Linked DNA regions of Homo sapiens: region 2 is linked to region 1. Evidence: fine-mapped expression QTL. A gene starts in region 1. The other region holds a variant in brackets. All regions are shown on one strand. Distances are from middle to middle. Region 1 holds the start of STMND1 (stathmin domain containing 1). Region 2 overlaps STMND1 (stathmin domain containing 1).

Region 1 (5,382 bases):
CTATGCACATCCTTCTGTATACTTTAAACATCTGTAGATTATTCATAAATACCTAAAACAATGTTAATGCTATGTAAATAGTTGTTGTACTGTATGTTTAAGGCACAATAACAAAAAAAAGTCTATACATGTTCAGTACAGTTTTTTTTTAAAAAGAATATTTTCCAGCCATGCTTCTTGTATCCCTGAATGTGGAACCCACAGATAGAGAGGCCCCACTATGTGTATTATTACTGCCCTCATTTTACAAATAAGAAAACTGGGGCACAGGGAGGTTAAATAACTTGAAAAAGGTCACACAACAAATAAATAATAAATCTAGAAATCAAACCTAGCTTGTCATACTCTTGACCATGGGTTTATGTGTCCTACCTAATGGGTTGGTGACTTCTTTTCAAAAGAGGACTGAGATAATCAGATTTTATTTGAGAAAGATCCTTCTGGAGGTCATGTGGATGATTAGAGGAGGAGGTCAGGTGTAGCAGGAAGTAGAAAAAGGATCCAGGGAGAGCAATTAGGAGACTTGCACAAAAATCCAAGCGAGAAGTGATAATTATCTTACCCAAGAAATGTAGGTAGAAACCCAGGAACCCTCCTGGGCCTTGGAATGGCTTGGCCCAGAAGACATCTTGTATTTGACGCTTGGAGAGGATTGGTTTTTAGCATCCCCTCCTATGCTGTGCAACGAAATTAGTTTTAGCAGTAACCATGAAATGGAACAAATGATAACGGCGAGAAAAGAAACCCATTTCTTTCTGTTGAAGTCTTATATGTAATCAGGCCAGCAAAATAAATAAAAAATAAAAGAAAGATTTTTGTATGAAAAGGGCGACAAGAACAATGGATTAGCACTTTTAAGTGACATTAATGTATTTTTGAAAAATGGGAGAAAAAAGTATTTCTACGTATTAGTCCAAAGTGATCATGAGTTCACCAGGCCAATAGGAGAGGGTCCCAGGGAGGGCATCTCAGGAAGAGGGAATGGCACAGGTAAAGGCATGGAGGTGTGAGATGCCTGGAAGAACTGAGCCCTGAGAGTCATTTGGTTTAGCAGATCCAAGAGCCCATGAGTGACAGGCACTGGCAGAAGACAAGAGAAGAGGATGACATTAGAGGGACAGGATAGATTATAAACTAAAGGGTTTTGCACACGAAGAGAAATTTTTCCCTTGGCAAGATAGGTGGCAGTGTGGAGGAGAAACTTGTTAGGATCCTGTCAGGAGAGGCAGAAATACCCCATAAAAGGTAATGGGTCCTAGCAGGGTGCGGTGAGTTACACCTGTAATCCCAGCACTTTGGGAGGCTGGGGCGGGTGGATCACGAGGTCAGGAGTTCGAGACCAGCCTGACCAACATGAAGAAACTCTGTCTCTAATAAAAATACAAAAATTAGCTGGGCGTGGTGGCGCACGCCTGTCATCCCAGCTACTCAGGAGGCTGAGGCAGGAGAATTGCTTGAACCCGGGGGATGGAGGTTGCAGTGAGCTGAGATCGTGCCATTGCACTCCAGCCTGGGTGACAGAGCAAGACTCCGTCTCAAAAAAAAAAAAAAAAAAAAAAAGGTAATGGGTCCCTATACAGAGACAGTGGCAGTTTCAGGATGGAAAGCAGAAAATAGTGTTAAGATGGGTGGCCATTTGGGCACAGGCTTCCCCCAGGGCACCAGGTACTAAATGTGGAGTCAGCCTTCACTAGATTCTGGTTTGCTTGTTTCAAAATGTACTCCAAGAGCCCAAGAGATGTGCCCCACATGAAGTAGGTGCTGCAGCTGGCACTTAATAGTGTCTTGCACAGTGCCTGCTGAGACCAAGTGTGTGCTCTTTGAACAGTAGCTCCAAAAATGACCCTTCGGAAAGGTGGCCATAAGTCCCAGTTTGCTGTGCTTCAGCCAGGGTCTTTGGGAAAATGTATTAATAGGGTTTCCTTTCACTCTTAAAAGCATAATTTTGATGATAAATTATATGTTAGCCTTATCTTTCGGTGTAACCCCTCTTAGGTGGACCCTTGAGGGTTGCTAGCGCTGTCTGTGGAATCTGGAGGGTGGTAAGGATGCAAAGAAATCATGGACCTCATTTCTGCTCAGCCAACTCATCCCTCTAGGTCTCGCTCTGGAAAAAATTCCCCATAATGTCTCTAGAAGAATTACAGTGCATGCAACTTTGAGGAATTAGGGAAAAGAGTATTGGAACGAAACTCTTGAAAACTAAATTCTACCTTCGCTGTGCCCCCAAATTAGCTGTGCAGCCTCGGACAAGTCGCCTATCTCTCTGGGCCTCATGATTCTCATCTATGAATCGAGAGGACGCAACCAGATAGGTTCTGAGATCTCTCCCAGCTTTAAGAAACGACCAAAGGGCCTATTTTTCAGAAGCCAATAATATATGGCAGTTCCTACGGACTCTAACCTTCCCTCGAGAATCACGGTCAACACTAGCTCTGTGCAGAACATGCTGCTCATCCGGTTATTCCTTGCCTGTGCCCTGGGGTGTGACCACCTTCGTAATCTCTTTAAACACCAAAGGCTCTCAAAATTGATCTTATAGCCATATATCTGTATCTATACTCTCTATCGATATAGATAGATATATTTTGATATTTATGCATCCGTCTAGTCCCGGTTAAGACAGCAGTTAAACACCGGCAGAATAAAGTTGCTCCCACCTGTTAACTAGCCTCGACCGACCCTGCTCCAGCCAACTCTTGTCGCCCCCAAGCGTGGGAATCGCGAGACCTCCCAGGCAAAAGGCTTTCTGTCTGTTTGTTTGTTTGTTTGTTTGTTTGTTTATTACCTTGAATTCCTCTTTCCAGCCCTTCTTGGGCGCGCGTACACGTCTCCGGTCTTCAGCAGGTTGGGAAGGTCCACAGCCCATGCTGCGCGCGCGCGCTCCTCCTCCGCGGGCTTGGCTGCTGTGCGCCCCCGCGAGCGCTCCCTGCCGCGCTCCGGCGCCGGTGGTCCCGCGCTCCTGCGCCCTGCGCCCTACGCCCCTGCTACTGCGCTCGGGCGCCACCCGCCTCTCCCACTTCCCGCGCTTAAACCCCGGGCAGGACGCACTGAGTTTCTGGGCAGTCGCCAGGAATGGTTGCCACAATAAATTACGTCATGCAGACCTGGGACCTGGGCGGAGATGGGACTCTTGTAACTGAAAACTAGAAGGTTGGAGGTGTCTAAATCACAGCTAGGATGCAAATGGCAGCCCTATCCAGAGCGAGGGGCCGGGGGAAAGCCCGCTGCCTGGCTGCGTTACTTTGAAAAGTACCAGAGTCGCAAGCATCTTGCGGGAACCTCTTATTTTTCCTCTTTGTAAGACACGGTGTGTGTGACACGCCCCTACCCCTGGTGCCTGGACCACATCCTTGTTTTTAGACACTGTCTGTAGTGAAGGTGATCGTGTGGCATGCGAGGCAGGTGTCCAGTCGCAGAGACGGCTGTTGAGGGCCGGAGGACGGTGTGGAGGCGGCCCCGACAGCACCAGAAGGCAGTGGCACAAAAGCGACCTCAGAAAGACGGTCGCACGAACAGAAACCAACACGATGAAGAAAAGCAGATAGTCAGGACCATAAACAGCTCAGCAGCCGCCAAATGGGTCACGCAAATCATTTTAATGGCAGGTGCATTTTACGAGCTGTTAGGCTGTATGGAAAGAGCATGGCTATGCATATTTCTAGCAGAGAATTAAATCAAGGTGTTATCCGTCCAAAAAGGCAGACCAGGAAGACTGCTCCAATGAGGATCAAGTTTGTCTTTCCCGGATATTTTCTTTTAATCTTAATTTTTATTTTTTTTTAAAGAATTAAAACGAACTAAAAGGAATCTTAGAGGTCTCCTATCAACTCTTTTTTTTTAGTTTTGCAGAAGTTGAGTGACTTTCCCAAGGTCAACGGGAAGCTAGTTAATGAAGGTAGGATGAGGAACTAGGTGGCCTGACTCAGTTTCTCTCTGTCTCCACAATACCAGGAAAGTACAACTGAGGATTCTTAGAGGTGTAAAAATCCTGGGTCCTTCCAAGGAAACTAATGCTCAGCTCTGTGATAGGAAGCTGATTACTTACAGCATTTAAACTCATTTCACTGTTATTGGATATTGCTGTCAATTTTCCTTCTACTAAAATTGAGGAAGAGGAAAGATGAGGAAATGAAACTCAACTCAAAGTATTATAATTATGGAGCAAGAAACATTGAAGATTTATTGAATGAAGAGTTGAAACAAAGCTAAAATGGTGTTGGGGGAACAGCTCTGATAGTATTAACTCATGGGTGTCATAAGACACATGTAATGCCCCAACTGGAAACTGGGGGAAATTCTCGATTAGAATATTCCAACACAAAGGACACCAATAAAATGTTCTTGAGCAAGTTGAATGGATGTTTGTATAACTGTAAGGGTAAGATACTGCACACAACTTTTTTTTTTTCTTTTAAGGCTCTCTGTGAACAGAGATTTGCTGAGAACGAGTAGGTGGTACCCAAGTGTGTTGTGCAGGTGTTGTTTGCAGCATCCTAGGACTACAGTGTGTAAACTAAAATAAAATCCTAAGCCCACCATAGACTGAACAGACCCCTTCTGAGCCAAGGGGACCCAAGAACAACTTAAAAACCAAGTTCCTGGTTATGACGGAATGAGAGGTGAGACATGCCTTTTTTTTTTTTTTATACCGCCTTGGTTTAGACACAACAACTGATCAGCATTAATGTTAAAATAGAGACCAGAAGATTGGCAGAACAGGCGGTGGCTCACGCCTGTAATCCCAGCCCTTCGGGAGGCCAAGGCAGGTGGATCACCTTAGGTCAGGAGTTCAAGACCAACCTGGCCAACCTGGCGAATCACCGTCTCTACTAAAATTACAAAAATTAGCGGGTGTGGTGGCGGGTGTCTGTAATCCCAGATACTTGGGAGGCTGAGGCAGGGAGAATTGCTTGAACCCGGAAGGTGGAGAGTGCAGTGAACCGAGATGGCACCATTGCACTCCAGCCTGGGTGACAGAGCGAGACTCCATCTCAAAAAGAAAAAAAAAAAAAGAAGATTGACAGAACTTTCGTGGCAGTAACATACCAAATTATAAATAGGACCTAAGGCAATGGTTAAGTCATACACCTCTACATTTAAAGAAGAAACTATGTTCTAATCTTGCTATGAAGTTTTTCTTTCTCTTTAGCAGCTAAACAAGCACTGGCCAGAAATAAGCAATATTGAAACAATTACAGCTTATCCAGCTCACAGGCTCTAACTGACCTCCTGCGACACCAGCCCTAACTACAGCTTTGATTGGACAAGAGATCAATTTCAGTAACTTTCTCCTGATAAGAAGACCAGCGACCATGGACTGTTTCTGGCCAGTTGACAGAGGTTATGCACTTGCATGCTTCATGTCCTCAAAAGACCTTT
Region 2 (5,382 bases), 23 kb before region 1:
ATTGTCATAAAGTATTTATGAAGAAAGTTTTAAGGTGTTTTGTTTTAAAAATTAGTTTTAAGATAATATAGATTGATTATAAAAAATATAACTGATACATAAATCATCTCCTTATCCTCTATTTAACCACATGGCCCCCAATCCCAGTCCTTAGCATGAACCTTTGTAAAGAGTTCAGTGTGTGTCTTCCCAGATATCTACTCTGCACATATATATGTTAAGGATATCTGTAATGTTAAACAAAACCTAAATGGAGTTATACTATATACACTGCTCTGCAATTAACTTTCTTCAATTAACTTAATATGGACATCTTTCTATATAAATATAGATTTATTACAACTGGGTGGGGGTAGTTAACTCCAAGGCTGCATTACAAAATGAACTGAATATTGTTCCAGATAATTTCTCTAAAGACTTTTTTTAAAGACAAAGGAGCTATTAATATTCATTGTAATTTCTAAAAGACTGTTTCTCCAGACTATAATGCTATAGGTACCAAGAAAATAAATCAAAGAGAGGCAGTTTAGCAGAGTAAAACAAGGCACCAGACGGAGACTTAGTCAGCCCTGGGTTTGAATCCTGGCTGGGCTATGGAATGACGGGTTTTTTTGTTTTTGTTTTTTGTTGAGACCTAGTCTTGCCCTGTCACCCAGGCTGGAGTGCATTGACACGATCTTGGCTCACTGCAACCTCCGCCTCCCGGGTTCAAGCGATTCACCTGCCTCAGCCTCCCAAGTAGCTGGGATTACAGGTGTGTGCCACCACGCCCAGCTAATTTTTGTATTTTTAGTAGAGACGGGGTTTCACCATGTTGGCCAGGCTGGTCTTGAACTCCTGACCTCAGGTGTTCCACCTGCCTCAGCCTCCCAAAGTGCTGGGATTACAGGCGTGAGCCTCCACGCCCAGCGTGTGCATTGACTCTCTATGATTCCTTAAACTCTGCAAGCTATGGTTTCCTCATTTGTAAAATAAGTTTAATAACATATATTTTGGGATTGGTTTTAAAAAAGAAAGAAAAGGATAAAGTAGCCACTCTGCAAATGATAGCTACTTTTCATTCAGTCAAAGCAGTGACTTCTTCCAAAGGCAGAACACAAACTCATAACCAGGACAAAGCGGAAAGGGGCGAAAGCACAGAGGGGAGGAAGGAGAGCCTACAGCCGGGGGGATCATCAGGCAGCAGGCATGAGCTTCAACTCTGGGGCGGCAGGAATGCCCAGCACATAGTGGAGACCCAGGCAGCTCTTCTCTTTGGACTCAATTTTCTCAACTGTGAAGCAGCAAGGGGCAAGAGGCCTGTGAAGCTTCCTTTCAGCTTTAAAATCTATGATTCTCAGGAAGTCTCCTAAAGAAAAAACATTTATTGACATTTTGGCTCCTTTAGAACCATTGGACGGTTTATGGGGTGCAAAGTTTTTCACTGCTTGAAAACCGTGGAATGTTTGTCAAAGGAAGTTCCCTCTCCCATCATCATTTTGTATTATTTTTATGACAATTGGCTCCTAAGTTTCCTGCTGGCAAAGACCACCCGCTGAAAAGAGGGAAATACTTGCTACGGTGGCTCAACTAGAGATACTGTGAAATTAGCAAGAAAATGATTTTTTAGGGATGTTCATGCGTAGAAGGCTAAAAGAAAATTAAGTAGTAATCCAAGATCCACTAAAGAAATGCCAGATTAGGCTATACATAGGAGCCTGAACCTTGACTAAAATTCTGAGATCAGTAGTTCTGAGAGAGCTTGGATTTTTCTGTTTTGGTCACCTCTTCCCGTGGCTTAATCTTAAAATGATCCTCCCCACAGAGGAAGTTAATCCTACCTGTGCAAGCCATGTTCTTTCTTGAGTTCCATATTTTAAGTAAAAAAATAAAAAACCTGTAGAAAGATATCTGTATTCTTTACAACTGAATTTTATGAAGTCAGAATTTATCAAATGTTGGAACTTAAAAACGTTAACAATGAGCTGGGCGCAGTGGCTCACGCTGTAATCCCAGCACTTTGGGAGGCCAAGGCAGGTGGATCACTTGAGTTCAGAAATTCAAGACCAGCCTGGGCAATGTAGTCAGACCCTGTCTCTTTAAAAAAAAAAAAAAAAAAAAAAAAAAAATATATATATATATATATATATATATATATATATATAAAACAATGATCACCTTATGCTTAGAGAGGTGTTACCAGTGGAAACAACAACACATTGACAACAACAAAATCAACCTACAGAAGTTACCAGTTCAATCATTTTCTTAAAGAATACTTTCAGAGGACTGCCAAGTTCAAAATGCTGCAATTAGATTAGAGTCCTGTTTCTAGCTACTAACTTGTATATTTTACTTCTTACATACACTGTGTATTCCTCAGAGCTTTCTTAATTAACTATTGACCTACGGATGAACCTGTCTTCATTTTGTTTCCTTAAAGGAGTCTTGTGGATAGAA[T/C]AGGCCAATCCTGCAAAACAGCCCTTCATTCTTGTTTTATCACTGTTAGACCTCCTGGGGAAGGTCACTCCGATCATTAGCTGGCGTTATTGAGTCCTAACTCAGTCAACTTCCTCCTCCTTAAAAAATTCTCCAGGAGGTTCAACAAATAATGGTAGAGACTCTTATGCAATGTGAACAAACTCTCCAAGTACACTTCAGGTTCCCAAGTATAGAAGTCACACAGAGAAGGGAATAAACTTTGACCAGACACAGAGGTCAATAGTGAATTCACAGAGCCTCAGGTAGGGAGACCCAGGATGTGCTAAGTGGCGGGGAGAAATGAATTTGGGATAAAAGACGAACTCAATAATACCTATGTGGATAAATGAGAGCCAATCACATCTCTCTAAAGAGGTCTATACCTATCCATATACATATCGACATGTGTACGTAAAACCAATGTTTGTTTACAATATAGTCAGTTAAGTCTAATTAGAATGTTTAAAAATACACTGAAAGATTCCCTCAACAATCTGATACTTACCTTCTTAATCTTATATTTCTTACATATCACTTTAACTCTTAATTTTTTTTTTTTTTTTTTGTAGAAATGGCATCTTACCATGTTGCCCAGGCTGGTCTTGAACACCTGGCCTCAAGGGACGCTCCCAGCTGAGCCTCGTAAAGCCCTAGGATTACAAATGTGAGCCACCATGCCTAGCACATTTAACTTTTTTTTTTTTTAATTGGGTTTTTTGTTTGACAGGGTCTCGCTGTTTCACCCAGGCTGGAGTGCAGTGGTATAATCAAGGCTTATTGCAGCCTCGAACTTCCAGGCTCAAGTGATCCTCCAACCTCAGCCTCCTAAGTAGCTGTAACTACAGGTGCACACCACCATGCCCAGCTAATTTTTTTTTTTTTTGGTAGAGATGGGGTTTTACCATGTTGCCCAGGGTGATCTCAAACTCCTGGGCTCAAGCCATCTGCCTGTCTTGGTCTCCCAAAGTGCTGGGATTACAGGCATAAGCCATCTTGCCCAGCCTGATTTTAACTCTTAAGTAAACATAAAATATTCTCGCATAAACATCTCGAAAGCTGGTTATCCAGAGAGTACTATGGAATTACTGTGGTATTCACCAGCAAGATTATGATGAAAATTAAGAAAAAAGACAAAGGGGCCTCTGTGGTGGACACAGATCCTCCCCTTACCTCTAGGGAGATACTGGCTTATGGGGGATGCCCCCGATTCGGAAGAGGGACCTTCATGAGGGACCTTCATGAAGGTGAACCCTCAATTTTCAACATCCTTTATTCAATTTCACTCTAAATAACTCAATGAAAGATAATGACCTGGCTAAGAAGCAGCCAGATCTAAGTCTGAAATGCCCTTGTATGTAAATATACTATTGGCCCACATAAGAAGTCTTATTTTTAAACTATTCTCTTTGGCTGCTTGGCTAGTTCTGCTGGTAGAGCATGAGACTCAAAGTATTTTCACATTTATTCTATTTTTCCCATAATATTTTATTTAAAAGAATGTTATTCCCTAGAGCAGTGAAGAAATAATATTTACATGTCTGTTAAGATTTACCACATTGTAGTAACTGCTGACATAATAATATCTTTGTTTTGACTATCCCTTTTTTGTTTCCCTTGACTTCTTGTTTTGTTTTTAGCCAGTTTGATCAGTCTGGGTTTGAAAAAACTTATTAAACATTAGATATTCAAAGTATTAATATTATTAATGATTAATATTATCTAATAATATTTCCATTCTTAATATGGTTCCCCTCTCAGTCCTTCAATATTCATTCTCATCTTTTTACATTGGCCTCATAACTCTTCCCAAAATATGCAAGACACCTGGTGTCTGACACACATATGTTCTCAGCTACCTCTGAATTGAAAGAAGTTTTATCCGTGACACAGAAACTGCATCTCTTTTATTTCCTTAGGCTTCCTGAGTATAATCTTAGTTCCTATTCCTGAAATGGTATATTTTCAGGAATATTTCAGAATTCTCTTTCACAATGAATAGGGAATCAAGAATGATTTCAAAAGCTTTAACCCTTCCCAGCTTTGGTAATGGATTTGAGAGCGTTGTGTAGAGTTTTGGTGAAACTTCACGGCAGTAGTTCTCAACCGGGCTGCCCATGGGAATCACCTGGGAGCTTTCAGAAGTGTGAAAGCAGGGCCACACGCCCAGGCTGTGTGGTCGGAAGTGGTACCTAGGCACTGGGATGTTTGAAATATCCCCAGGTGACTCCAATGTACCGGCGGGTTAAGGACCACTGGATTAGGCGATGAAACAAGAGAGCTGTGTGTTGCTGCCTGGTCTGTTGCAAGCCTGGCTTATGTTGGGATATCTTGGCCTAATACCAAAGCCAAAAAAACAAAATTGTGCTATTCCTGAAGGCTGTCACATTTAAATCCTTTTGAGAACGTTCCCAACAACCATTCTATATGCCTACATAGTATGAAAAATAGTCTTCATCTTTGGTTCACTTAATGATGTTATTAAAAGTCCAGCCCACAGTTATTATTTTTTTAAAGGTGCATCTCTTTCACAAGGTAGTTTATATTAATTAACCTTGCAGGCTCCATTGCAAAGTCTAAGTCAGAACTCATTCATCTCTGGCAATTGAATCACGGAGAATGTTTTAATGTGATTCCTACTGGTGTATGTATGTAGACATCGAAGTGTCTATAGCATTTCCCTTAAGAAGACATTGCTTAGCTACTGAATGTTTCCACAATCTATCTGCCTCCTCTCAGACTTGCTTTCCTTTTTCTTTTGACATGCCTTCTTTTTTCCTGACCCCTACAGACTCACCTACAGCTAGAAAAAAATCTTTCCTCTCCCCTTTGATATTAAAAACCCATCCCTTCTTCTAGCACTTTCAAATAAGATAAGGCACTCCAAAATGCCTTGTATCATGCTAGCGTTGTGCAAATGTAAAT

Evidence for each region. PIP is the estimated chance that this variant, and not a neighbour inherited with it, causes the effect.
Region 2: its variant is fine-mapped to the expression of STMND1 in nasal epithelium (TOPMed, PIP 0.98).

What each region holds. Positions count from the first base shown.
Region 1 is chr6:17,099,745-17,105,126 of GRCh38, reverse strand. STMND1 (stathmin domain containing 1) reads right to left here and starts at 3,077. Exons shown (of 5, transcript NM_001190766.2): 1 at 2,789-3,077. The coding sequence starts at 2,869. The region is part of intron 1 of LOC101928463 (a long non-coding RNA gene); the gene reads left to right.
Region 2 is chr6:17,122,797-17,128,178 of GRCh38, reverse strand. The region is part of intron 3 of STMND1 (stathmin domain containing 1); the gene reads right to left. Among named protein-coding and RNA genes, the nearest start is that of STMND1, 23 kb to the right of the region's middle. The variant T/C (reference allele first, on the strand shown) is at 2,440.